Linked DNA regions of Homo sapiens. The protein of the gene in region 6 purifies or fractionates together with the protein of the main gene of each other region. This does not show direct contact. Each region holds a gene or a part of one and is shown on either strand. Other genes may lie near its edges. The genes, in order: DDX19B, PRKACB, PON2, PPT2, TMEM209, NAXD and STX17.

Evidence for each region.
Region 1: the proteins of NAXD (region 6) and DDX19B purify together in Homo sapiens (affinity purification with mass spectrometry; one large-scale study listed by BioGRID and IntAct). This does not show direct contact.
Region 2: the proteins of NAXD (region 6) and PRKACB purify together in Homo sapiens (co-immunoprecipitation; one large-scale study listed by IntAct). This does not show direct contact.
Region 3: the proteins of NAXD (region 6) and PON2 purify together in Homo sapiens (affinity purification with mass spectrometry; one large-scale study listed by BioGRID and IntAct). This does not show direct contact.
Region 4: the proteins of NAXD (region 6) and PPT2 purify together in Homo sapiens (affinity purification with mass spectrometry; one large-scale study listed by BioGRID and IntAct). This does not show direct contact.
Region 5: the proteins of NAXD (region 6) and TMEM209 purify together in Homo sapiens (affinity purification with mass spectrometry; one large-scale study listed by BioGRID and IntAct). This does not show direct contact.
Region 7: the proteins of NAXD (region 6) and STX17 purify together in Homo sapiens (affinity purification with mass spectrometry; one large-scale study listed by BioGRID and IntAct). This does not show direct contact.

What each region holds. Positions count from the first base shown.
Region 1 is NC_000016.10:70,309,186-70,312,685, forward strand, and holds part of DDX19B (ATP-dependent RNA helicase DDX19B), read left to right. Parts: intron 1-3,423; coding exon 3,424-3,472; intron 3,473-3,500. UniProt on the Homo sapiens protein: ATP-dependent RNA helicase involved in mRNA export from the nucleus.
Region 2 is NC_000001.11:84,231,271-84,234,770, reverse strand, and holds part of PRKACB (cAMP-dependent protein kinase catalytic subunit beta), read right to left. Parts: intron 1-3,500. UniProt on the Homo sapiens protein: Mediates cAMP-dependent signaling triggered by receptor binding to GPCRs.
Region 3 is NC_000007.14:95,421,529-95,425,028, forward strand, and holds part of PON2 (serum paraoxonase/arylesterase 2), read right to left. Parts: intron 3,058-3,500; coding exon 2,987-3,057; intron 2,161-2,986; exon of another isoform or gene 1-2,160. UniProt on the Homo sapiens protein: Capable of hydrolyzing lactones and a number of aromatic carboxylic acid esters. Has antioxidant activity. Is not associated with high density lipoprotein.
Region 4 is NC_000006.12:32,152,650-32,156,940, reverse strand, and holds the start of PPT2 (lysosomal thioesterase PPT2 isoform a precursor), read right to left. Parts: upstream 2,801-4,291; 5' UTR 2,537-2,800; intron 2,355-2,536; coding exon of another isoform or gene 2,347-2,354; coding exon 2,164-2,346; intron 1,912-2,163; coding exon 1,758-1,911; intron 1,254-1,757; coding exon 1,158-1,253; intron 1,071-1,157; coding exon 963-1,070; intron 1-962. UniProt on the Homo sapiens protein: Catalyzes the cleavage of thioester bonds from S-palmitoyl-CoA or S-palmitoyl-N-acetylcysteamine (unbranched structures) but does not have activity against palmitoylcysteine or palmitoylated proteins, branched structures or bulky head groups.
Region 5 is NC_000007.14:130,184,907-130,188,406, forward strand, and holds part of TMEM209 (transmembrane protein 209), read right to left. Parts: intron 462-3,500; coding exon 286-461; intron 1-285. UniProt on the Homo sapiens protein: Nuclear envelope protein which in association with NUP205, may be involved in nuclear transport of various nuclear proteins in addition to MYC.
Region 6 is NC_000013.11:110,625,545-110,629,044, reverse strand, and holds part of NAXD (ATP-dependent (S)-NAD(P)H-hydrate dehydratase), read right to left. Parts: intron 1,607-3,500; coding exon 1,498-1,606; intron 1-1,497. UniProt on the Homo sapiens protein: Catalyzes the dehydration of the S-form of NAD(P)HX at the expense of ATP, which is converted to ADP.
Region 7 is NC_000009.12:99,913,154-99,916,653, forward strand, and holds part of STX17 (syntaxin-17), read left to right. Parts: exon of another isoform or gene 1-998; intron 999-2,024; 5' UTR 2,025-2,086; coding exon 2,087-2,209; intron 2,210-3,500. UniProt on the Homo sapiens protein: SNAREs, soluble N-ethylmaleimide-sensitive factor-attachment protein receptors, are essential proteins for fusion of cellular membranes.

The DNA.
Region 1 (3,500 bases), on a different chromosome or scaffold from region 6:
TTGTCCATTTCCATGAATAGAAATGGGAGGCTGGGCGCGGTGGCTTATGCCTGTAATCCCAGCACTTCGGGAGGCCGAGGCGGGCAGATCACGAGGTCAGGAGATCGAGACCATCCTGGCTAACACGGTGAAACCCCGTCTCTACTAAAAATATAAAAAGTTAGTCGGGCATGGTGGCAGGCGCCTGTAGTCCCAGCTACTCCGGAGGCTGAGGCAGGAGAATGGCGTGAACCTGGGAGGCAGAGCTTGCAGTGAGCCAAGATCACGCCACTGCACTTCAGCCTGGGCGACAGAGCGAGACTCCATCTCAAAAAACAAAACAAACAAACAAACAAAAAGAAATGGGGCTCCTGGCTGGGTGCAGTGGCTTACGCCTGTAATCCCAGCACTTTGGGAGGCCGAGGCGGGTGGATCACGAGGTCGAGAGTTCGAGACCAGCCTGACCAACATAGTGAAACCCCGTCTCTACTAAAAATTCAAAAATTAGCTGTGCGTAGTTGCACACGCCTGTAATCCCAGCTACTTGGGAGGCTGGGGTAGGAGAATTGCTTGAACCCAGGAGGCGGAGGTTGCAGTGAGCCAAGATCGTACCACTGCATTCTAGCCTGGGCGACAGGGCAAGACTCCGTCTCAAAAAAAAAAAAAAAAAAAAAGAGAAATAGAAATGGGGCTCCTCCATTCTCAACAAACCACCAATTAAAACATTTTTTTGTTCTCTCCTCTCTACCCTCCTTCCCCTTTCGCCTGTTCTTGGACTTAGAGGGACAACAGAAATGCGGCCTAATGCGTAGTTCACACTTATAATTCTAGCACTTTGGGAGGCTGAGGCAGGAGGATCGCTTGAGCCCAGGAGCTCAAGACCAGCCTGAGCAACACAGTAAGATCCCAACTCTACAATAAAAGATTAGCTGGGCAGGCTGGGCGCAGTGGCTCATGCCTGTAATCCCAGCACTTTAGGAGGCCAAGGTGGGCGGATCATGAGGTCAAGAGATTGAGACCATCCTGGCCAATGTGGTGAAACCCTGTCTCTATTAAAAATACAAAAATTAGCTGGGCATGGTGGTGCATGCCTGTAGTCTCAGCTACTTGGGAGGCTGAAGCAGGAGAATCGTTTGAACCCAGGAGGCGGAGGTTGCAGTGATCTGAGATAACACCACTGCACTCCATCCTGGCAACAGAGCAAGACTCCGCCTCAAAAAAAAAAAATTAGCTGGACATGGTGGTGAGTGCCTGTAGTCTCAGCTACTTGGGAGGCTAAGGCAGGAGGATTGCCTGAGCCTTAGGAGGTTGAGGCTTCAATGAGCCATGATCATGCCACTGCACCACTCCAGCCTGGCCAACAGAGTGAGACCTCGTCTGCAGAAAAAAAAGAAAGAACCATTAGGTTGTGATTTTCATTTTCTTTTTACTAGATGATGTCTTAGGCCCTGCTTGATATTTTATGATTAGGGTTGGCTTTAGCTTGAAAGGTTACTTACTCACGCCAGACTTTCCATCTATCTAATCCCTGTGCTGGGGTCCAAGACTTACAGATGCTTTCTGACCTTTAAAAAAGTCTTTTTTGGCCAGGTGCGGTGGCTCATGCCTGTAATCCCAGCACTTTGGGAGGCCGAGGCAGGGAGATCACGAGGTCAGGAGATTGAGAACATCCTGGCTAACATGATGAAACCCTGCCTCTACTAAAAATACAAAAAAATTAGCTGGGGGTGGTAGCGGACGCCTGTAGTCCCAGCTACTCCGGAGGCTGAGGCAGGAGAATGGCATGAACCCGGGAGGCGGAGCTTACAGTGAGCTGAGATCAGGCCACTGCACTCCAGCCTGGGCAACAGAGCGAGACTCTGTCTCAAAAAAAAAAAAAAGGCTTTTTTGTTTTGTTTTGTTTTTAATAAAAATGTACGACTAGAAAGGCCGGGCGTGGCAGCTCATATCTGTAATCCCAGCACTTTGGGAGGCTGAGGCAGGCGGATCACGAGGTCAGGAGATCAAGACCATCCTGGCTAACACCGTGAAACCCCATCTCTTAAAAAAAAAGAAAATACAAAAAATTAGCCGGGCGTGGTGGCGGGCGCCTGTAGTCTCAGCTGCTCGGGAGGCTGAGGCAGTAGAATGGCGTGAACCCGGAAGGCAGAGCTTGCAGTGAGCTGAGATCGCGCCCCTACACTCCAGTCCAGGTGACAGAGCAAGACTCTGTCTCAAAAAACAAACAAACAAAAAATTTACGACTAGAGCACTTACTTTGCTCTGTACTACATCCAAAGGCCAAAAATAGAAATATGCTACTCTGGGCACATTTCCTGTGGGGTAGCCCTGCTCCTCAAGGAGCAGTAGAAAACGAAATAGGCCCTGTCAGGAAGGTATTTGCATTCTAATAGAGGAGATAAGACCTGCTAGGATATCCCTAATATACAGTATTTGATCAAAGTCTTAGTAATTATTCTTTGAAATGTCTCTTTCCTTTCTATTTCCACTTCAGCCCAGTGGGTATTTTAATTACACAGTGTGCCACAATGCTTCAGGCTGTTCCCAACTACAGTATCAGACACCAGCAAAAGGTGACTTGAATGTGAGGCTGCACATCAGCATACTGTGGTCTTACGGCTCTAACGTATCCTGCAGTATGACTGATTCCTACCCACAGATGCTTTTCTTTTCTTTTCTTTTCTTTTTTTTTTTGTGAGACGGAGTTTCACTCTGTTGCCAGGCTGGGGTGTAGTGGCGTGATCTTGGCTCACTGCAACCTCCGCCTCCTGGGTTCAAGCGATTCTCCTGCCTCAGCCTCCCAAGTAGCTGGCACTACAGGCATGCACCGCCACGCCCAGCTAATTTTTGTATTTTTGGTAGAGACGGGGTTTCACCATGTTGGCCAGGATGGTCTCGATCTCTTGACCTCGTGATCTGCCTGCCTGAGCCTCCCAAAGTGTTGGGATTACAGGCGCGAGCCACCGCACCTGGCTTTACAGATGCTTTTCATCACAGTCCTCCCTTCCCAGTGTTCTCCAAAGTATGACTGCATTTTTCAAAATCTCTTTAAATTTCCTCTTGTTTGAAATATGATTTGGAATGCAGCGATTCCCCCCCACACACAAAAGAAATATGAGAGAATGACAACTCTAATGATATTCTACAAAGAGAGAAAGTTTATAATCAGGGCATTAAGCAAACTCACAAATTACAATTCTCTCACAGAATTTTAAGTAGAAGGTACAGATTTGGAGCATTTTTTTCCACCGATGTATTTACGGGAAATTTTGTTTATTCTCATCAGACATTTAGTAAACGGAACAACCCAATGAATTGGTCCTAATGAATATACCTTGAGAATGGCTATTTTATCCCCAGCTTCATTAGGGAGGCTCTGTTGATTCCAAATCTTTTTAAGTGCTTTTCCTGACACTTTCCCCCTCCCCCATATTCTCCATTTAGTTGAGCAACTTGCATCTTAAGGAAGAGAAAATCAAACCAGATACCAATGGTAAGTAACTAATAGCTAGTTTGAAAAC
Region 2 (3,500 bases), on a different chromosome or scaffold from region 6:
CGAAGCAGGGCAAGGCATTGCCTCACTCAGGAAGCGCAAGGGGTCAGGGAGTTCCCTTTCCTAGTCAAAGAAAGGGGTGACAGACGGCACCTGGAAAATCAGGTCACTCCCACCCGAATACTGCGCTTTTCCCACGGGCTTAAAAAACGGCGCACCAGGAGATTATATCCTGCACCTGGCTTGGAGGGACCTACGCCCACGGAGTCTCGCTGATTGCTAGCACAGCAGTCTGAGATCAAACTGCAAGGTGGCAGTGAGGCTGGGGGAGGGGCGCCCGCCATTGCCCAGGCTTGCTTAGGTAAACAAAGCAGCTGGGAAGCTCGAACTGGGTGGAGCCCACCACAGCTCAAGGAGGCCTGCCTGCCTCTGTAAGCTCCACCTCTGGGGGCAGGGCACAGACAAACAAAAAGACAGCAGTAACCTCTGCAGACTTAAATGTCCCTGTCTGACAGCTTTGAAGAGAGCAGTGGTTCTCCCAGCACACAGCTGGAGATCTGAGAACGGGCAGACTGCTTCCTCAAGTGGGTCCCTGACCCCTGACCCCTGAGCAGCCTAACTGGGAGGCACCCCCCAGCAGGGGAACACTGACACCTCATAGGGCCAGGTACTCCAACAGACCTGCAGCTGAGGGTCCTGTCTGTTAGAAGGAAAACTAACAAACAGAAAGGACATCCACACCAAAAACCCATCTGTACATCACCATCATCAAAGACCAAAAGTAGATAAAACCACAAAGATGGGGAAAAAACAGAGCAGAAAAACTGGAAACTCTAAAAAGCAGAGCGCCTCTCCTCCTCCAAAGGAACGCAGTTCCTCACCAGCAACGGAACAAAGCTGGACGGAGAATGACTTTGACGAGCTGAGAGAAGAAGGCTTCAGACGATCAAATTACTCTGAGCTACGGGAGGACATTCAAACCAAAGGCAAAGAAGTTGAAAACTTTGAAAAAAATTTAGAAGAATGTATAACTAGAATAACCAATACAGAGAAGTGCTTAAAGGAGCTGATGGAGCTGAAAACCAAGGCTCGAGAACTACGTGAAGAATGCAGAAGCCTCAGGAGCCGATGCGATCAACTGGAAGAAAGGGTATCAGCAATGGAAGATGAAATGAATGAAATGAAGCGAGAAGGGAAGTTTAGAGAAAAAAGAATAAAAAGAAACGAGCAAAGCCTCCAAGAAATATGGGACTATGTGAAAAGACCAAATCTACGTCTGATTGGTGTACCTGAAAGTGATGGGGAGAATGGAACCAAGTTGGAAAACACTCTGCAGGATATTATCCAGGAGAACTTCCCCAATCTAGCAAGGCAGGCCAACATTCAGATTCAGGAAATACAGAGAACGCCACAAAGATACTCCTCGAGAAGAGCAACTCCAAGACACATAATTGTCAGATTCACCAAAGTTGAAATGAAGGAAAAAATGTTAAGGGCAGCCAGAGAGAAAGGTCAGGTTACCCTCAAAGGGAAGCCCATCAGACTAACAGCGGATCTCTCGGCAGAAACTCTACAAGCCAGAAGAGAGTGGGTGCCAATATTCAACATTCTTAAAGAAGAGAATTTTCAACCCAGAATCTCATATCCAGCCAAACTAAGCTTCATAAGTGAAGGAGAAATAAAATACTTTACAGACAAGCAAATGTTGAGAGACTTTGTCACCACCAGGCCTGCCCTAAAAGAGCTCCTGAAGGAAGTGCTAAACATGGAAAGGAACAACCGGTACCAGTTGCTGCAAAATCATGCCAAAATGTAAAGACCATCGAGACTATGAAGAAACTGCATCAACTAACGAGCAAAATAACAAGCTAACATCATAATGACAGGATCAAATTCACACATAACAATATTAACTTTAAATGTAAATGGACTAAATTCTCCAATTAAAAGACACAGACTTGGCAAATTGGATAAAGAGTCAAGACCCATCAGTATGCTGTATTCAGGAAACCCATCTCACATGCAGAGACACACATAGGCTCAAAATAAAAGGATGGAGGAAGATCTACCAAGCAAATGGAAAACAAAAAAAGGCAGGGGTTGCAATCCTAGTCTCTGATAAAACAGACTTTAAACCAACAAAGATCAAAAGAGTCAAAAAAGGCCATTACATAATGGTAAAGGGATCAATTCAACAAGAAGAGCTAACTATCCTAAATATATATGCACCCAATACAGGAGCACCCAGATTCATAAAGCAAGTCCTGAGTGACCTACAAAAAGACTTAGACTCCCACACATTAATAATGGGAGACTTTAACACCCCACTGTCAACATTAGACAGATCAATGAGACAGAAAGTCAACAAGGAATTGAACTCAGCTCTGCACCAAGTGGACCTAATAGACATCTACAGAACTCTCTACCCCAAATCAACAGAATATACATTTTTTTCAGCACCACACCACACCTATTCCAATATTGACCACAGAGTTGGAAGTAAAGCTCTCCTCAGCAAATGTAAAAGAACAGAAATTATAACAAACTATCTCTCAGACCACAGTGCAATCAAACTAGAACTCAGGATTAAGAATCTCACTCAAAACCGCTCAACTACATGGAAACTGAACAACCTGCTCCTGAATGACTACTGGGTACATAACGAAATGAAGGCAGAAATAAAGATGTTCTTTGAAACCAACGAGAGCAAACACACAACATACCAGAATCTCTGGGACACATTCAAAGCAGTGTGTGGAGGGAAATTTATGGCACTAAATGCCCACAAGAGAAAGCAGGAAAGATCCAAAATTGACACCCTAACATCACAATTAAAAGAACTAGAAAAGCAAGAGCAAACACATTCAAAAGCTAGCAGAAGGCAAGAAATAACTAAAATCAGAGCAGAACTGAAGGAAATAGAGACACAAAAAACCCTTCAAAAAATTAATGAATCCAGGAGCTGGTTTTTTGAAAGGATCAACAAAATTGATAGACTGCTAGCAAGACTAATAAAGAAAAAAGAGAGAAGAATCAAATAGACGCAATAAAAAATGATAAAGGGGATATCACCACCAATCCCACAGAAATACAAACTACCATCAGAGAATACTACAAACACCTCTACGCAAATAAACTAGAAAATCTAGAAGAAATGGATAAATTCCTCGACACATACACTCTCTGAAGACTAAACCAGGAAGAAGTTGAATCTCTGAATAGACCAATAACAGGATCTGAAATTGTGGCAATAATCAATAGCTTACCAACCAAAAAGAGTCCAGGACCAGATGGATTCACAGCCGAATTCTACCAGAGGTACAAGGATGAATTGGTACCATTCCTTCTGAAACTATTCCAATCAATAGAAAAAGAGGGAATCCTCCCTAACTCATTTTATGAGGCCAGCATCATCCTGATACCAAAGCCAGGCAGAGACACAACCAAAAAAGAGAATTTTAGTCCAATATCCTTGATGAACATTGATGCAAAAATCCTCAATAAAATACTGGCAAACCAAATCCAGCAGCACATCCAAAAGCTTATCCACCATGATCAAGTGG
Region 3 (3,500 bases), on a different chromosome or scaffold from region 6:
AGGCAAGATGAAGCTGCTAAGTTACTTGGGACTCTTGAACTGTCTGCATGATCCAGCACAGATGTAGTCAATCTGCTATTTGATATGAGTTTGCCTCCTCCCACTTAGTGTTTGGGCAATTGAAAGAAGGAAGGGAAATTCCAGGACAGCCAACCAGTCTAGGGGAGGGGAGGTAGAACTGGGGAAATACAAAAGTATCAATGAAAAAAAGGAGAAAGAACACATAGGAAACAGATGCCTAAGGAATGAGAGGCAGATCAACCTGAGGAAGCTGATTTAAAAGAAGAAAAAAAGAAAGGGAGGCAAGCAAGGTATTTGTAGAGAAACTCTGAAGGTGGCACTGTCAACTGATGGTTTATTTTTACTAAAAGAGTGCTGAGAACTCTGTCTGGAGTGAATGTGGTTACAACTATGAGGTACTGAGTTTATTACTGTTGCCAAATTGAGAGCAACTTAGCAATGACTGTCAAAACTCTAAACACATATTCTAAGGGAACAACAATCCCATTGTTAAGGACATATTCTACAGACACACAAACTCAACAGCAATGATGTTCACTGATTTGTTCATAGTTGCAAAAAACTGTAACAACCCAAATGTACATTAAAAGGGGAATGGTTAAATAAATCATGGAATGTGAAAATATTAAAAAGAACAAAGTAACTATATATGCTGATGTGGAAAGCTGCTCACACTGTTTTAGGAATGAAGAAGGTTGTGAAATATTTACACTAAAATTCTATTTGTGAAAAAAAGAGTCAATATATTTGTTTGCAAATGCACTGAAACTATCAGGAAAGATAAAAAAGGGAGCTTTATCTTTGGGGTTATTTCTGTTGGGGGTGATGAAGAGTTTGATGAGAGATTTTTATTTTTATTTACTTTCCATTTTATATCTTTCTATATTGTTTGCACATACACTGTTTATATGAACTTTGCACAAAAAATACTGTGCAGTTGTGAAGAAAAGGTAACATTATGTACAAACATAAGTTTCCAAAACCTAGTATTAAGTACAAAAAGCTAGTTTTGAAATATTATGCATAATTTGACCTCACTTATGTTTTTAAAAATTATGTACAGGAGTATTCATAAAAAGAAAAAGATGGAAGGACACTCAAAACTTGTTTAACAATGTTACCTATTCAGAGAAGAGAACATTTCCATGTAACCCGAGTTTTAATTTCTAAAGAGTAAAACAAAATATTAAATTGTCTCTCCTACCTCTAGAGAAGGATGTTGTTGTAAAGGACTAGAAGTGACTCAATGACAGTCTAGTTATTTCCACACTGTGGCTCTCAGAGTAAGATTATAAATAAATGGTCCCAGGCTTTTTAAAGTCTAAAAACCATTAGTCTAATCACAAACTCATCATTATAGGTGACAAATACAAAAACCAACTTTGCCTAAGGTTACATTGTGGCAGAATAGAACTAGAAACTAGGTGTTTTGACTGCTAATTCTTTTTGTTTCTAATCATACCATGAACCATATCTAAGGAAAGCCAATATTGGCTGGGCTCAGTGCCTCATGCCTGCAATCCCAGCACTTTGGGAGACCAAGCTGGGAGGATTGCTTGAGGCCAGGAGTTCAAGACCAGCCTGGACAACATAACAAGACCCTGTCTCTACAAAAATAAAAAACTAGCCATGAGTGGGGGCATGTGCCTGTAGTCTCAGCTACCTGGGAGGACGAGGCGGGAGGATCGCTTGAGCCCAGGATATCAGGGCTGCAGTGAGCCAAGATTGCGCTACTGCATTCTGGCCTGGGTGACAAAGTGAGGCCACCTCTCAAAAAAAAAAAAAAAAAAAATTAAAATTTAAAAAAAAGGAAAGCCAATATTTATTGTTCATTGATAATCTAACTACTAGTCTATTATGTACTAGGGACATGTACTTAGTAGATGATAAAGGGTAAAAGACAGCAAGACACAGACTCTACCTTGGAGAAAAACTGCAAACACACCAGAGAGACCCTCAGTGCTGGAGAAGAATCTGGACAGATCCCTCCTTATCTATAGCAAAATTGGGGCTTGCTCTTAGGAACCCCTACTCAAAGACTCAGACTCCACAATACATCCTACATAAAGTCAAGGGAAGAGGGAGACTCCCCCTCTGCAGTCATAGCTTAGAAGATAAAATAAAAACAAGTTTTTACAATACATATTGTGAAGTGCCGGTACATCAGTCCGTTCTCAGGCTGCTAATAAAGACATACCTGAGACCGGGTAATTTATAAAGGAAAGAGGTTTAATTGACTCACTGTTCCGTGTGGTTGGGGAGGCTTCAGGAAACTTACAATCTTGGTGGAAGGGGAAGAAAACACACCCTTCTTCACATGGCGGCAGCAAGGAGAAGTGCCGAGCAAAAGGGGGAAAAGCCCTTATAAAACCATCAGATCTCATGAGAACTCACTCACTATCACGAGAACAGCAGCACAGGGTAACCACCTCATGATTCAATGACCTCTCACTGGGTCCCTCCCACAACACGTGGGGATTATGGGAACTACAATTCAAGATGAGATTCGGGTGGGGACACAACCAAACCATATTGGTCAGTTACGTGTTAGCCATAAGATCAGATCCTAGTTATAGAGTAGTGAGCAGGGTAAATGCTGTCACTGCCTACATAAAGCTTCCTTCACTAGCTGACCACAAGGCTCACAGAACACAGACTGCAGCGGCCATACCTGACAAACAATACAGACGCAACAAAAATAGTTCAGAGAAGTCACAAAACAAGCAAGAAATCAAATGCTAAACATAGAATTACACACAAAAAAGAATAATTTACAGTGAGGGTAGGAAAGAAGAATAAATACAGGGTTCATCAGATCAAGAGGTTGACCAAAGAGGTTTTTGTTGATCTAATGTGATTTATCCACTGAAAAGCAGTAATTTCATGCTAAAATGCCATTAATGAGTGTTTTAATGTTAATGGCCAAAAAATGCAATGTGCCCAACAAGCATTTTCATATACATACCAATTCCTTTAATCAGGTGGCAGTGTGGAAGGTCTACAGATTCTACTTCTCTGGAGGCTTTAAGTCGATTTCTGTTACAAAGAAAAAAAAACAAAAAACAAAAAACTATTTGTTTATGTATTCCCTGCTTTGTTTTAGAAAGGGTTTAAAGAGGCTTACAGCAATACATAAAACACAGTTTAAGTCTAAAGCAGATGAAAGAGAAAATAGAAAGACAAGGGTAGGAAAATAAAACTGCACCAGAAATGAAGTTAAAACAAAAATGCCTATTGCAAAGTTCTATATACTGATGTGGGTTATTAAAAAAAAAAAGCCAATAACTCAACAAATAAAACTTATAATGCAAGTTCCTATGCAAATGTAAACACAGCACCATGTCACATTTCTCAGTGTTGGTGTTGTGGGAAAAGAGTTCCAGATGTAGAACCAGTAGCCCTGTCTTCCTTCTGAAGAGTCAAACGTGAAAAATGACTGTAAGCCTCACACAGAGACTGCAAAGAAGCCAAGAGAAAAT
Region 4 (4,291 bases), on a different chromosome or scaffold from region 6:
CCAAGATATTGGGATTACAGGTGTGAGCCACCACACCTGGCAATAGCAAGTACTTCTATCTAGTATCTACTATATGAGCCAGGTACTATTCAAAGTACATTGCATTCATTTATTTATTTAATCCTTACAACCACCTGGTGAAGTACATGCTATAATATTTTACAGATAAGGAAAACTGAGTAACAGAATGGTTAAGTAACTTGCCCAAAGGCACCCAATAGGGTCAAGATTCAAACCCAAGTATTCTGGCCCCATGGTCTGGTCTAGAGGTTGGCAAACTGTGACCAAAGGACCAAATCCAGCCTGCTACTTGTTTTTGTAAATGAAGTTTTACTGGAACACAGGCACATTCATTCACATATGGTACATGGCTGCTTTCACACTACAACAGCAGAATTGAGGAGTTGTGAAACAGACTATATGTCCTACAAAGTCAAAAATATTTACTCTCTGGCCCTTTATAGACAAGGTTTGCTGACTCCCACATCAGACTAAACCTTCTAAGGCAATAAGGTGACACACTTAAAACATTCTGGGCCAGGTGCAATGGTTCACACCTGTAATCCCAGCACTTTGGGAGGCCGAGGCGAGTGGATCACCTGAGGTCAGGAGTTCGAGACCAGCCTGGCCAACATGGCGAAACTCCATCTCTACTTAAAATACAAAACTTAGCCGGGCATGATGGCGCCTGCCTGTAATCCCAGCTACTAGGGGGACTGAGGCAGGAGGATCACTTGAACCTGGGAGGCGGAGGTTGCAGTGAGCCAAGATGGTGCACTGCACTCCAGCCTGGGCAACAGAACAAGACTCCGTCTCAAAAAAAAAAAAAATTCTGAACAGAGCCTGTTCAAATAACTCAATAAATGTAAGTTATCTTTATTGTCATCACTGCTATTGGTTGTAGCAGAGGTGGAAGCAACTGACCTGATCCATGGAAGCCCCAGTTCAGCATCCCCACTCACCATGCCAGTAGTTGCAGATGGAGAATTCCTGGCCCCAGGGGCTATAGCAGATCCGATAGAGGTTAGACCGCATGGAGGTGGGGAACAGCCACTTCAAGTAGTCCGTGTCTGGCAAGCGAATGGCAATGCTAAGTGACCATAAACCTCTGTTCCCCCAAAACTCAGGGCATTCTATGGAGTCTAGTGCCCACTCACCTCCATACTGTCCCATCTGTGGAGAGGAGAGGGAGATGAAAGAATCCACGTTGTGATCATCCATGACAGAAAGCAGAGCCCGGCACACAAGGCCCCCTGTAAGCAGAACACCACATTGGGCAGGCACTTAAGGACAGCAAAGCCAGCAGCACCCCCCACCCCCACCACACACACACACACACACACACACACACACACAGAGACACACACAGACACACACTGTACACAAAGGAGACTGAGGCTTACAGAAGGCAGGCACACCCTGTGCCAAAAGGTCACACATCATATAAGTGACTGAGCCCGAATTAGATGCTGGGCCTCCTGCCTCTAGTTCTAGGATGTTTTTACCTGCCCCATTAGCCCTTATGTCCAAGAACCATGGGTAACAGGAAGCAAAAGGGCAGCAGTGTAGGGAGCCTCCCTCCCATTCAAGACAGAGATGAGACCCAGGTGCTGAGGGAAGTCAGAAAGGAAGGGCTCAGGTACCAGGGTTGTGCCTGGAGCAATGTGGTTCAGAAAAAGGGACGCTAGGAAGTGTCCCTCAGATAAGGATCAAGCCTCAGATAGGGCTTAGGAGTTAGGGGCAGGGGAGTCGCCTACCCTGCGAGTAGCAGATGAGATGCACCCCTTGAGGGGCCTTTGCCATGATGGGGACCACAGCCTCTCGGAACCCTTGCACCTGTTCCCACAGGGGTCGCAAGCTCTCTCTCCCATCGAAGAGATCGAGCACTGTCACCACAGTCCCGGGGTGTGTCTGTGGGAAGGGGGCAATGCAGCCACCGGGGATAGGCTAAGAAGCTCCCACACGCCACCCCCTGGCCCGCGTCCACAGGTCTATTGTACCCTGCTAGAACCAGGGATCCCGTCCCCCAACTCTCCCCCACGCCAGCACCAGCTCCCTGAGGAACTGGGCAGGCCCAGAGGGGTGGCTTTCAGTTCCCCGCTCTCCCTCCCCTGCCACAGTAGACGCCTCTAACGCCCTGCACCCAGGTGTCCCCTGCCAGACCTCATTGATGTATTCCAGCAGGTGGCGGAAGCTGTACGAGCTGTCGAAGAGCCCATGCACCACGATGACCGGCTTGTAGGACGCGCGGTGGGGCGCGGGGGCTGCAAGCAGCAGCAGCGGCAGGAAAGGCAACAGAAGCAGGACCCACGCCGCGGGGAGCCGCTGCCCGCAGAGCCCCAGCATGCTCCCGCCTGAGAAAGGGGTGATAAGGGCATGTGAGGGAGATGGCAACACCCTCCTCCCTCGGAACAGACGCCCGGCAATCAAGCCACCTCCTCTCGCTCCCACACCAGGTCCGTGTCACAAAATAGCCTACTTTTAACTTACTCCAGCCCTCTCCCTACAAACACACCCCCCCACCACGTTGACGCACCAACGCGCACCCGAAGTCCCGCCTCCAACTCAGCGTTCGGGGGACTTGTTCTCTAGGTCCAGGATCTTCCTAATGCATCGCCTCAGCCATGAACAACGCGGAGTTCTTTAATACCCGTGAGCAGCAGCCCAGGCCCCTTGAAGAGTGCAGACTCCCACCTGGCCTGGGTCCGTAGGCCTCGCTCCACCCGCTGTTTACTTATCCCAAGTCTGGAACCCACGGTGGCGGGGGGAAGGGTGAGGAAAGAGAGCGCAGGGGAATGACGGATGGGAGGGGGAAGGGCGGGCTGCTTGGGGTCGCGCAAATCCGTCACGTCCGGGGCTTTCTCTGGCAACCGCGCGAGCGTTCCCCGCAACACAGACCCAGGACAGGAGGGGCAATGGAATATTCCATTGCGCCCTAGGTGCTGGGGAGGAAACAGGCGGAGCGATCCATTTAGGCCAGTGGGGAGAGGAAAAAGCAGCAAACATATTCTGGGAATGGAAAGAAGGCCTCTCCAGGCTTCGTTGCCCCCAGCGACCCAAAAGTCCGATTTCCCCGCCTTGATTCTCCCCACTTCCCAATACAGGCGTCTGGCTCCGCAGCAGAACACGAAGTTTGCATTCCCCAAGGGGCGGCCAGGGGGCGGACCAGGGAAAGGTAGTCCTCTGCATTTTGCCGTGTGCTGGGTGAGTGGCAGGGTGGCCTGGAGGGCTGATGCCAGCCCGGGCGTGCCCCTCAACACCCACCCCACCCCACCCTCCAGTCCGCCCCAGGTCAGCGACTTACAACTCTTCATTCTGAAGTGCGTGTAGTGCCCTTGTCTCCAGAGACGCAGAGAGTCCTCGAGGCCCCTTGAGCTAAGTGCAGCCTGGCCCAGTTTCTCCTGCCCTACTCTACTCCCCTCCCTATAAGCGACCCACCCTCAAGGGGCGGAGGGCGCGTAGGGATGCGCTGACTCATGCCCGCGTAATTTCGACCAGTCTTTCAACCTGAACGACCCCCAGAATCTGGCTGTCTGAGTTATCTGTGGGTGGCTCCCTACCGAAACCCCCAGGCGCCCCACCTCTCCGCCTGTGACCCCTAACCGACACCCTAGTGCCTCAGGGCTTTTACTTGCTAGGGCTTTTACTTAGCATTTAAAGACGTTTCTCTAGAGATAAGGATTTCTCAGCATGTCTGAGCCCCTCTCTCTGTTTACAAGGTCATTGCTTGGTCTAAATTTGTCTCAATCAAAACATTTTTGCGCTCAGAATGGTGTAGAGTGACGATGAGGTGGCGGTAAGGGGTTGAGCGCTCACGCGAACGCCTAAGTGACCAGAACGACTGGTGTGAAGCCGTGATCTGACTCTGTGGAGCCTGGGACTGGTTTCAGCGAGAGCCTCTGTACTGCTCTGTAGTCTCTGCTAGGACATGGACGAAAAGGGACGCAGCCGGGAGAGCGACTGCCCCAGGTGGGGGCTGGGGGGACGTAAGGGAAGAATAATAATTATCTGGCTGTGTTTTTGTTTAAAAAAAAAAAAAAACTGGTGTAAATCTCCATAGACTTCCTATCCTCGCTCCCTTCACCCACCCACGCGCTCCCAAGATGCAATAAGCAAATAAAAAGACTAATAACGCTGTACTGCAGGTCGACTCAGGAGCTGGAGATGCGTCTTGGTGGGAGGTGGTGGGTGGGAGTAGGGGGGTTTAGGGAATGGATCTGAACATTGACCAGCCCAGAGACTCTAAGCAGCCTCAAAAGCAAAGGGAAAGTGGGGGAACAAGCACACATTA
Region 5 (3,500 bases), on a different chromosome or scaffold from region 6:
AAGTACAATTATATACCTGAGAGCCTTTTTATAATCAATGTAAAAATATGTTTCAGGCAGGGCGCTAAGGTGAACTGTGTGTCACAGAGTAAAATGTATGATATAATTTAGTTTTTAGTTTTAGGCACACAAAGTAAGACAGGAGCTTTCCCACTGCCTAATGTGTGCCAGATTTACATTTCTGTCCAACAGAATGGAAGATTACAGAAAAAATGTTCCAGAAGTAGAAGACTTTCTAACAATGCATAAATCATAAATATTAAGTCACTTTTATTTTCCACTTACCTCTTCTGCGGCTTGTTTAGAGCTGAGATCGGCTTCATCTTTGTTAGCACATGGGGCCTGAGACCTACAGGCAAGCTGATACTGAAACTTCTTTAAAGTTTGTGCATAATCCCCCATAGAACGACTATAGTTCCAGAAAGTAGGACTGCTGGAAGGAGAGGTAGAATCTGGGCTCCCTACAATTGTTAAGATAAACAGTATCAGTGTGTTGTAGCAATTCTGACATCTACAGTTAACACTTATATCTAGGCAATGGCAATCCAGGAATCAGAAGACCAACCCTCAAGGAGATTCTCTTCTCCCCAACATAATTTTCTCTTTAGAGATCACAGTCTGCTTGTGATTAAAAATTTTAAATAGTATTTTCTGAGCCATATCAATTTAACAGTCATAAAAACAATAAGCAGTCAAAGGCATCTGTCTAGTTCTGTTGAAAAGTTAAGCTCGTTTCATTCTCTAAGACTTTTAAATCATTTAGTAAGAAACAAACAAAAGACAAATTTCTTTAGGAAATAAATAGGCCAAGCAAGTTCTTTATTTGAAATTTCTAGAAGCTCTTTCTAAAAGGGATAACTATAGCCTCCTACTAAAAGATTACTCTCCTGGTAACAAGCTAAACTTATTTGTCCCTGTACTTCACTGTGTTTTACTTAACAGCCTGTGGTAATTCCTGAGTTGTACTAAAAGACTATCTGATGGTTATCCTTCTAAATTTATAAATTTACTTTTAAGAAATGTAAAAAAAAGTTCTATTTAGGAATGTACTCCTACAGAGGCCTCTGAACCAGGATATTAATCACACTTCCGGGTTATAGTTTTTGTCTGTTTTCCCAAATAGAATTTGAGCTCCTTGAAAGCAGGGAGCATTTTTTTTCCCTAGCATCTAGCATAGCGCCTGAATAAATAAGCAAGTTTTTGACAACAATTATATGGTATTTATGAAGGGCTTATATTTTCGGAGTTTAACTGATATAAAAAATATCAATTGGTACTTTATACCCTCAAACAAAACTTATAAATAGAAACAATTTTTTTTAATCTTAGCAGAATTCTAAAAGGAATGACTAGAAAATAATAAAACTCATTTTCCTTATGCTTACGGGTACAAAGAATTAGGAATCATCAAACGGGTATGTAGCAATATAATTCATCAAAATTTTGATGGTTAGCTAGTTTTGTTAGCGTTGGTGAATGTTTCATGCTGGCATAAAAAGTTATATACAGTAAAGAAACATCACACTGTATGAAATTCTGGCAAAACTGACTTTAGGAATGAATTAATGTCAAGAAAAGCAGTTGTCAACCAACATAAATGATTTAATAAATAGAGAACAGAAATGGAAAGTAAAAACATGGTCATAACAGAGCATAAAGTTATCCTATTTGATTAATCATTGCGATTATTAACTTTAAGAAACGTAAGTTTTCTATGAAAAAACTTGTATTTGAGTAAAATTTCATTGAGGACTGGCTTTAGACAATGAATAGAAATAGGAAGTTCTAGTACCTCTGGGCATTAGTCAAAGCAAAGAAAAAATGTACATAGCAAGTAATGACAAAATAGGGCCTTTCCATGATGAACACCACCATCACCACCACCACCACCACCACAACAACAGCACACAATCTATAGCTGGAGAACCTCAAAGACCTAAGAGTCAAAGCACATGGAGATTTGGAAATCTGGGCAACACAGGAAACCAGACAACCTAAAACATCTCCCACTATAAATATCTAAAAACATTTATTAAATAAAATACATTCTTTAGGCCAGTGCGCGGTGGCTCACGCCTGTAATCCCAGCACTTTGGGAGGCCGAGGCGGGCAGATCACTTGAGGTCAGGAGCTCGAGACAAGCCTGGCCAACATGGTGAAACCCTGTCTCTACTAAAAATACAAAAATTAGCCAGGTATGGTGGTGCATGCCTGTAATCCCAGCTACTCAGGAGGCTAAGGCAGGAGAATTGCTTGAACCCGGGAAGCGGAGGTTTCAGTGAGCCGAGATCACCCCACTGCACTCCAGCCTGAGCAACAGAGCTAGACTCTATCTCAAAAACAAAAAAAACCTCGATCTCAAAAAAAAAAACAACATTATTAAGATGAATAATGGAGCTTGCAAAAAAGTAAGGCTATGAATAGCCAGTGGTTAAAAATGAAAAGAGAATTAAAAATCTAAATAGCCTGTAAGAGGCTGCTGTGGCGTGGCTGCTCTAGAGAATTTTGTAGGCCTTGAGAAATCTATCAGCTTGGATTCATTGCCCAAGTGGGAAACGGAGATAAGGATTTGGGCCCTTAAGAGGCAGAGAGTTGGGCTGACACCTTTCTCCTACCCCTAGTCCCTGGTCCTGGTAGAGGACCAGGAATCTCAAAGGGCCACATTCAGAGTAGATAAGAAAAAAATCTGTTCAATGGGACCAGGAGATAATGAAAGCTTGTCTGTCATAGGTTGTTGGGAGACTTAAAAAAAAAAAAAAAGAAAAACAACACCCTGAGATTTAAAAATTATAGATATATCTTCACATGGGTTTAGAGTGCCCATTTATATTACCTGTGAGGTCCAGGAATCTCCAAGCTTAGAAATTACTTAAGTTAGCTCAAAGTCAATAATACTCCTAAGGCACCTGACAGAGGCAAATACAAAACAGCTAGGAAGAGACAAGGCTTCCATCCAGCCAAGATAAGCTTACCAGAAACAAACAGAAATTACATCAATCACAAGGAAACAAGACTGCAGTCCTAACAACCAACAAGACAAAAATGGTCAGTATTTAACCTCCAAGAACTTTAGATAATTGAACTATTGGACAAATAACATTTAAAAAGTGTGTTTAAGCAACTGAGATAGAAAAAGGAACTGAAAACATAAGAATAAAAAATATTCTACAAAAACCTGGCATAATTGAAAAGGACCAAATAAAACTATAAAATGAGAACAAGTGGCTGAAATTAAAAAACTCAATGAATTAGTTAAATAACAGTTTAGACATTACTAAAGAAAGAGCTGATGAGTCCACAGTGACTAAACCAAAAAAGCTGGGGTGGGGGTAAAACAGAATGCTCCTCTTTAGAGAAGAATGCCAAACTATGAAGTGTAGAAATAAATAATTAGAAAATCTCCACTTTGGCCAGGCGCAGTGACTCACACTTGTAATCCCAGCACTTTGGGAGGCCAAGGCGGGCGGATCACAAGGTCAGGAGATCGAGACCATCCTGGC
Region 6 (3,500 bases):
AGACCACGGCAACAGTGTACAGGAACCAGAATGCAAGGTCCAGAGTCTGGGCTGCAGGGGCAGCGACGCACACCCTCACTTCCCACCTTTCACACTTCCACGCAGTACAGTGGTTTTTTAAGATACCAGTTTTTAAATTGTGAACTTAAATTCACAAAGAAAATAACCTGAAGCAGAGCACTCTGGCTCGTTCACCTCTAATTCATCCGCACCCCCAGGATGCAGAGCTGGACAGGAAGCAGCAGCCGTGCACCGCAGACCCGCAGCCTGCAGATGGGACTCCCCATTGAGAGCCTCTCCCCGGGGATGACAGAGGGTTCTACTGCTCCTAAACATGGCCACCTCCTCCTTCCCGGTGAGCGGGTAAGACCTTAAAGCTCAAAGACGGGCTCCCGTGCTGACTCCACGCCGCTTTTCCTGGTCTGTGCAGTGTCAGCCTGCGTCTGCCTGCCCCTCAGATGACTCATCCTGCACTGCTGGCTCCATCACTCGCCGCCTTCAAGCCCCGCAGCCTCAGAGACCCCTCCATTAACTAAGCACCCAACAGAGTGCCATGCAGATGGCTGGCATTTTCAGGGTGACTGCTGATCTGGGGAACACAAAATGGCCAGGCACCTTCTAAGGGCTTCAAGCGTAGTCCCTCACTAATGCCCGGCCTCTGATCCCCATGCAGTCACCACGCCTTGCACATGTGAGCACCCTGTGGCACCAAGCCATCTGGCACACTGTGTCTTCCCCCAGGAGCTCTAACAGGGGTCCCCCGGAACTTGAGAAAGGGTCTCAGAGGGCAGCCCCACAGGAGCACAACCCCCAGCAGAGACACACCAGCCCAGGGAGCGTCAGAGGACGCAGGGAACACAGAGCTGGCAGCCATCCCCATCTTTTTATCGCCCCTGATCCCAGGTGGTATTTATTTACAGCAGGCACAAAGTGATCAGAATAACTTTCATCTTTTGGATTTAGGTGGGCATAAGATGAACTTTAAGAAAGAAATACCAGCATAAATGAGAGTCCATGCGCATATGCATGTGGGCACGGACAAGCAGGCCCGTGTCACCTCACAGCCTGATGTCAGCAGAGCATGGCGCCAGGGCTGTGTGGGAACAACGGCCCAGGAGGCTGAGGGAACCCCAGGATCCCCCAGCAAGAAGGGGGTGGCCTGGGAGATACACCCAGGCCTGACCCCAAACCTCTGTCACCTCCTCAGTCCTGCTCACCCTCTCCTCACATCAGACATAAAACAACTGAGCAACTCCACACACACACCTCCTGCAGCTGCTCCATGAGAAAACAGTCGGGCCCGGAGAGAAGCACATCTCAGCACAGTTCCTCCCCACCTTTGCACTCAGTTTCTCCTCCGTCCCTCAAATCTTATCTCAATCATGCCACAAAGAGGCACACGGAACACTACACAAAATGCAAGAGAAATGCCTCTGTTCCAACTTCACGCCTAAGGCTAAGCCTGTCATGAGGGAAGTGAGTGAGTATACACATTACCTGGACATTTCTGAGAAGCGCATCATCTCTACCCAAGCCAGGTCCTACGACAAGAGCATGCAGCCGGGGCAGCCACTTCTCCACCTCATGAACAGCATTGGGGCTGTCACTAAAGAAGGAAAGGAAGGCCAGGATGGTTACCCACAATTCCTCATTTACTTACTGTCATGTATTTGTTTACATTTTATTTTGAAAAAATAACTTATAAATAGTAATGACTTTTAAATAATTTCTGTAATTTAGATTTATTATTTAATCAGTACAGAAGGCTCCCATGTACCCTTCGCCTAGCCTCCCCGAGGTTAACGCCTCACACACCCACATTCCGGATCAGCATGACCAAGTTCACATTGGTTAATACTATTCATTAAACCACAGCATTTTCCAAATTTCCCATTTCCTCTTGATGTCCTCTTCCCATGTCAGGACCCAAACCAGGCCCCACACTGCATGTGGCCATTGCCTCTCCCTGATCTCTCTTTTAATGCCCAGATTTACATGCCTAGCTTTCAACAGTTACGACAAGTTAGAAAAAGAACGATGGCTATTTTCAAAATCATCTTTGCCCTCTAAAGTTAGCCCGTTTGTTTCCATCACATACATGTGTGGCTGTAAAGCCTACTTTGTGTGCTTATAGACCAGGCCCCACACAACGCACTGACCCTGCTGCAGTTTCTCATTCAGAACAGGGCAGGGGTTTGCTTTTTCAGAACTCCTTCCTGTTCGGTGTGACCTCTCCTAGAGCCCACTGTTAAGGCTTCTGTCCCCTTTCCTCCCCGACAAGCTCCCTTGTCAGGGTCACCCCGCACTGTGAGATGCACCAACTGTTCTCAGGCCTCATCTCCAACTGACCCAGAGTCGCACACACAGGCCCTTCTGGAGCTGTCTGGAAACAGCGGCTTCACTGACTCCTGGAGGCCCCTGCTGCCTCCTCCCCAGCCCGTGCTCCCAGCATCTGAGTGCCAAGTCCCCCCTGCCCCCAACCCCAGCCCCCCTCCGCCTCTTACTCCCTCGTCTTCCAGCTTTAAGCACCGTCCACATGTGCATGACTCCCAAGCCCGTGTCCCCACTGTCCAATGCCCTCTAGCCACGTCCCTTGGATGTCTAACTGGCAGCCAAACTGCGCCCTACACCCAACGCCTCATCTTCATCCCACCCAAGCCCGTTTCCACCACATGGAGTGACCACTCGCTCAGACCAAAACCCTTGGTGGAGTCTGTGCCCCTTGCCTTTTCCAATCCAATCTGTCGGCAAATTCCACCCCCAAACTTTCCAAACATACCCAGAATCCGGCCCCTCTCACCATCTGACTGCACCCTTCCCTCCCACAGGTCCTTACCACAGCCTCCGGCCCAGCCCCACAGCCGCGTAGGAGCCTTTATGACCCACACTGGCCCTGCCCTGCTTACTCAGGGCCAGAGCCACAGCCCTGACAGCAGCCCCACACCCTGTGGGGCCCAGCCCTGCACCTCTTGGTCACCCGACACATCACAGCACCGCACCTGGAGCTCCGCGCCGGCTCCTCTCTGGTGTGGAGAGGCCGGGCTCGACCCAGGCGTCATCACACTGTGCTGCCGCCCCAACTGCCCCTCTGCCCACTCTCACAGCCCCCTCCCTGCTGCCGCTCTCTACGGTTCCTTCACCACCTGACATCCTCCTCTCCCTTGTCTCCAGAGCAGCACAGCCCAATCCAGTCGGTGCAAACACACACAATGAAAAGTAAACAAGAGCAAACGCTCTGCTCCCGCACCTCCCAGCCACATTTCAAGCCCTCAGTGGCCACAATCCTGGACGGCAGAGAGAACACCTCCACACAGCAAGCTCTATAGCATAGGCGGTCTGGGGGAGCCCCACGGGGGCAGGTTTTTGCCTGCCCAGTTCCACGCTGACCCATGGAACACAGGCTAGGGCCTGGCACCAGACATATGTGCCGAGTGCAGGAAGGGTCTTGTTATTGCTCAGAGGCCCTTCGTTTCCACCTTCTGCAAACCTGTCACACACAG
Region 7 (3,500 bases), on a different chromosome or scaffold from region 6:
CATGTATTTAGGCAAATTTGGTTTCTTTTTAATGTATGCTACTTGAGGCTGATGTGCTTTTTCAGTTTGAGGTCTTACATTTTAATTATCAGTATATTCTCTTTGAATAATTCCTTCTTACTGTTTTCTTTGTTCTTTCTTTCTGGGACTTCTACTTGTTATTAAGCTTCTGATTTTATCCTTTATGTCTTTTATCTTCTTTTTTATACTTTTCATCTTTTTATTCCTCTGTGTTCTGAGTGATTTCTTCCAATCAATAATTGTTTCTTATCTATATAATTTACTGTTTAACACATCTTTTGAGATTTTCATTTCTAGAAGTTTTACTTGTTTTATATTCAGGCTGGCCTCTTACTGTTTCATAATATCTATTTTTTTAAAAGATTCTGTTCCTTTTTGGAATAGAATGTTTTTGGATATTTAAAAATATACTTACTTTAGTTTCTTTTTAAAATTATTTTATTATCTTTCGTCCATTAGGTATGAATTTTCCTGTTTTGTTGGGTCTGTGGATGGTCTCTTTTGGTAATGAATTTCTCCATATGTCCCCAGTTTCCATTCACTGTTGCACCTGTTTTACCCTCTTTGTTTTTGTACCTGGAGATTTTCCTTTTTGACTTTTGAGCCTTGTATCAAACATAAAAACCAAGTTACTAATGGGTAGGTATTGGAGGCAGTCTATATAACCAACACATCAAGATTTTCAACTGTGAAAGAAAGGGGATAAATATTTAATGTTTTGGGGATGATAGATCTCTGAGAATCCCTTGAAACAATGGACTCTATTCTCCAAAATAAACTATATTCACTTTTTTTTTCTTTTTTTTTTTTTGTAGAGATGGGATTTTGGCATGTTGCCCAGGCTGGCCATGAACTCCTGGGCTCAAGTGGTCCTCCCGCCTTGGCCTCCCAAAGTGCTGGTATTACAGACATGAGCCACCGTACCCGGCCCCTTCATTCACAATTTTTCATAAAGATTCAGTGGCTCCACAAAGTCTGTATGTGAATTCCTATCTTTATAGACCCTGGACTAAGACAGCATAACTCAGCAGTATTAACATACTCAACTTAAAATTTTTTAAACATGGGTGAGGTTGTGGCTAATGAAATGGCATGAAAGCATGGTGTACAATGGTGGCTTTCAAGCTTGGTTAAGCTGTGAAGCCCATTATTTATATAAGCTCTGATAAGCTCCAATTCATAAAATAGTTGTAAGTAAAGTTTCTACAACTGAAGTAGGGAGTGGAGTCCTGGAACCTACTCACCTCTAGCCCCTACGCTTGTACTCTGGCCCCAAATGCATACCCTTGGACTTTCTGGAACACTAGTAGGAAACTACTGGTGAAGTGGAAAAAGTATTTCAATGTAATTTCAGAAAATCTGGGTTCTTATTCCAGCTCTGTCACTGGTTTTTTGAATCAGTTGTAGGCAATACTAATCACTTTATTGAAAATGGAAGAGGCAGTTTAAAGCACATCAATGAGAAAAGTTGCATATTATGTTATCATATATTTGAAGTTGTGTAATTACAAAGTTACATTATGATGACATTAGACATGAAGTTTGATACAAGCATCAGTGTTAAGCCATTTGATACCTTTTTTAAAAAGGTTATTCAATGTCCAAGATAGATCAGAAAATGAAAACTTGGACAGTATACTCCTAGCTTTTTTAAAAGTATTTATATACATACATACCTACTTACATAGAAAAAGACCTGGAGAGACGTATGCCAAAATGTAAAGAGTACATTTTGTACTCTTTGTAAAAGGTGAGGAGATGACTGCTGACTTTATTTAATTCTTCATTTATTTATATTGTCTGAACATTCTAAAATATAATTTTTGTAAAGAGAAAAAGATTTAAAAATCAGTGGTTTCATAAAGAAAAAAACAAGTCACTCAAGGTCAGCATTAGAAATATTCTATTTATTGATTTAGAATAAATTGTAAAACTAATCGTTGGCTTTTAAAAATAGTGGAAACAGATTTGAAAACATTCTTAAAGAAATATTTTTCTTTTAGGTTTTTCTATATGAGTGGAGAAGACAGCTGTTACCAGGGAGGTCATACAACATTTTTTTAGGATGTCTGAAGATGAAGAAAAAGTGAAATTACGCCGTCTTGAACCAGCTATCCAGAAATTCATTAAGATAGTAATCCCAACAGACCTGGAAAGGTTAAGAAAGCACCAGATAAATATTGAGAAGGTGAGCTGTTTCATTTACTACCACAAGAAATAGTTACATAGTTTGATTTATATTGGTTGTTCATTTCAGCTAAATTTAGAATATTAGATAAGAGGCATTGCTGAAACACCTAGCTCCTATTGATTTAGCAACATTATGCATTTTTTAGCTGGTTTTTCTGTTCTGCATATATACCTCTCATATATTCCTTTTTCTGGGAAGGGATATAGGAATAGAGTCTATGCTTTTTTGTTTGTTTGTTTGTTTGAGAGACAAGGTCTTGCTCTGTTGCCCAGGCTGGAGTGCAGTGGCATGATCATAGCCTACTGCAACCTCAAACTTCTGGGCTCAAGCTATCTACACACCACTATCCGTGGCTAACTTATTTTTATTTTTTTGGAGAAACAAGTTCTTGCTTTGTTGCCCAGGCTGGTCTTGAACTCCTGGCCTCAAGCTGTCCTCCTGTTTTGCCTTCCAAAGTGTTGGGATTACAGGTGTGAGCCGTGGCGCCTGGCCAAGTCTATACCTTTTTAATTGTACATATTGAGGTTTTAGGCAGTTAATAATTAAGATACAAATTGATTGATGGTGCACTATAATGTAAAGGCAGAGAACTTTGGCTAATGTACCTGCCTTAATTTCATTCACCCCATGGCAAGTTTTTGAACTTTGAGTGTGTGTCTTTCAGTAACTCGTATTCTCTTTAGGTATACATACATTAAAGAAGTAAATCATTGTGAGATATGAGGGAATTTCCTTACTTCACAGCTTCCCTTTGAGGAAAGCTCACAATTGAGAAGTACTGCCTAATTCAGTTGAGGAAATAGGTAAGGAGAAGATGAATTAGTCTCAGGGACTATGATAGAGGTTGCATAGAACCTACCATGCTCCGGTGAAGTGGCTGTGGCATTTTTGGAAACATCAAGTTTACTCAGTACTGAGCATTAATTTGGCAGATTATGTTGTCTTATTTGCTGTGGGACAGGCCAGTGATATTTTTTGTTTCAAAAAGACTTTTCCCAGCATAAGTCTTAAGCTGCAGAACCTCCATTTATTTATTTATTTATTTATTTATTTATTTATTTATTTATTCATTCATTCATTCATTCATTCATTCATTCATTCTTTTGAAGGTTGGGAGTGGAGGATATGGTCATTAAGCCTTTCAATATAAACATTATTCATTACTCAACTCAGTAGCATATAGAAGTCAGAAAAGTGTACCTTTTTCTTCCATAGATACCATCTGTCTTTCTAGAATTCAAGTCCTTTTAAAAGTGGAGAAAATCAGTTCTGAGAATATTAAAATGAA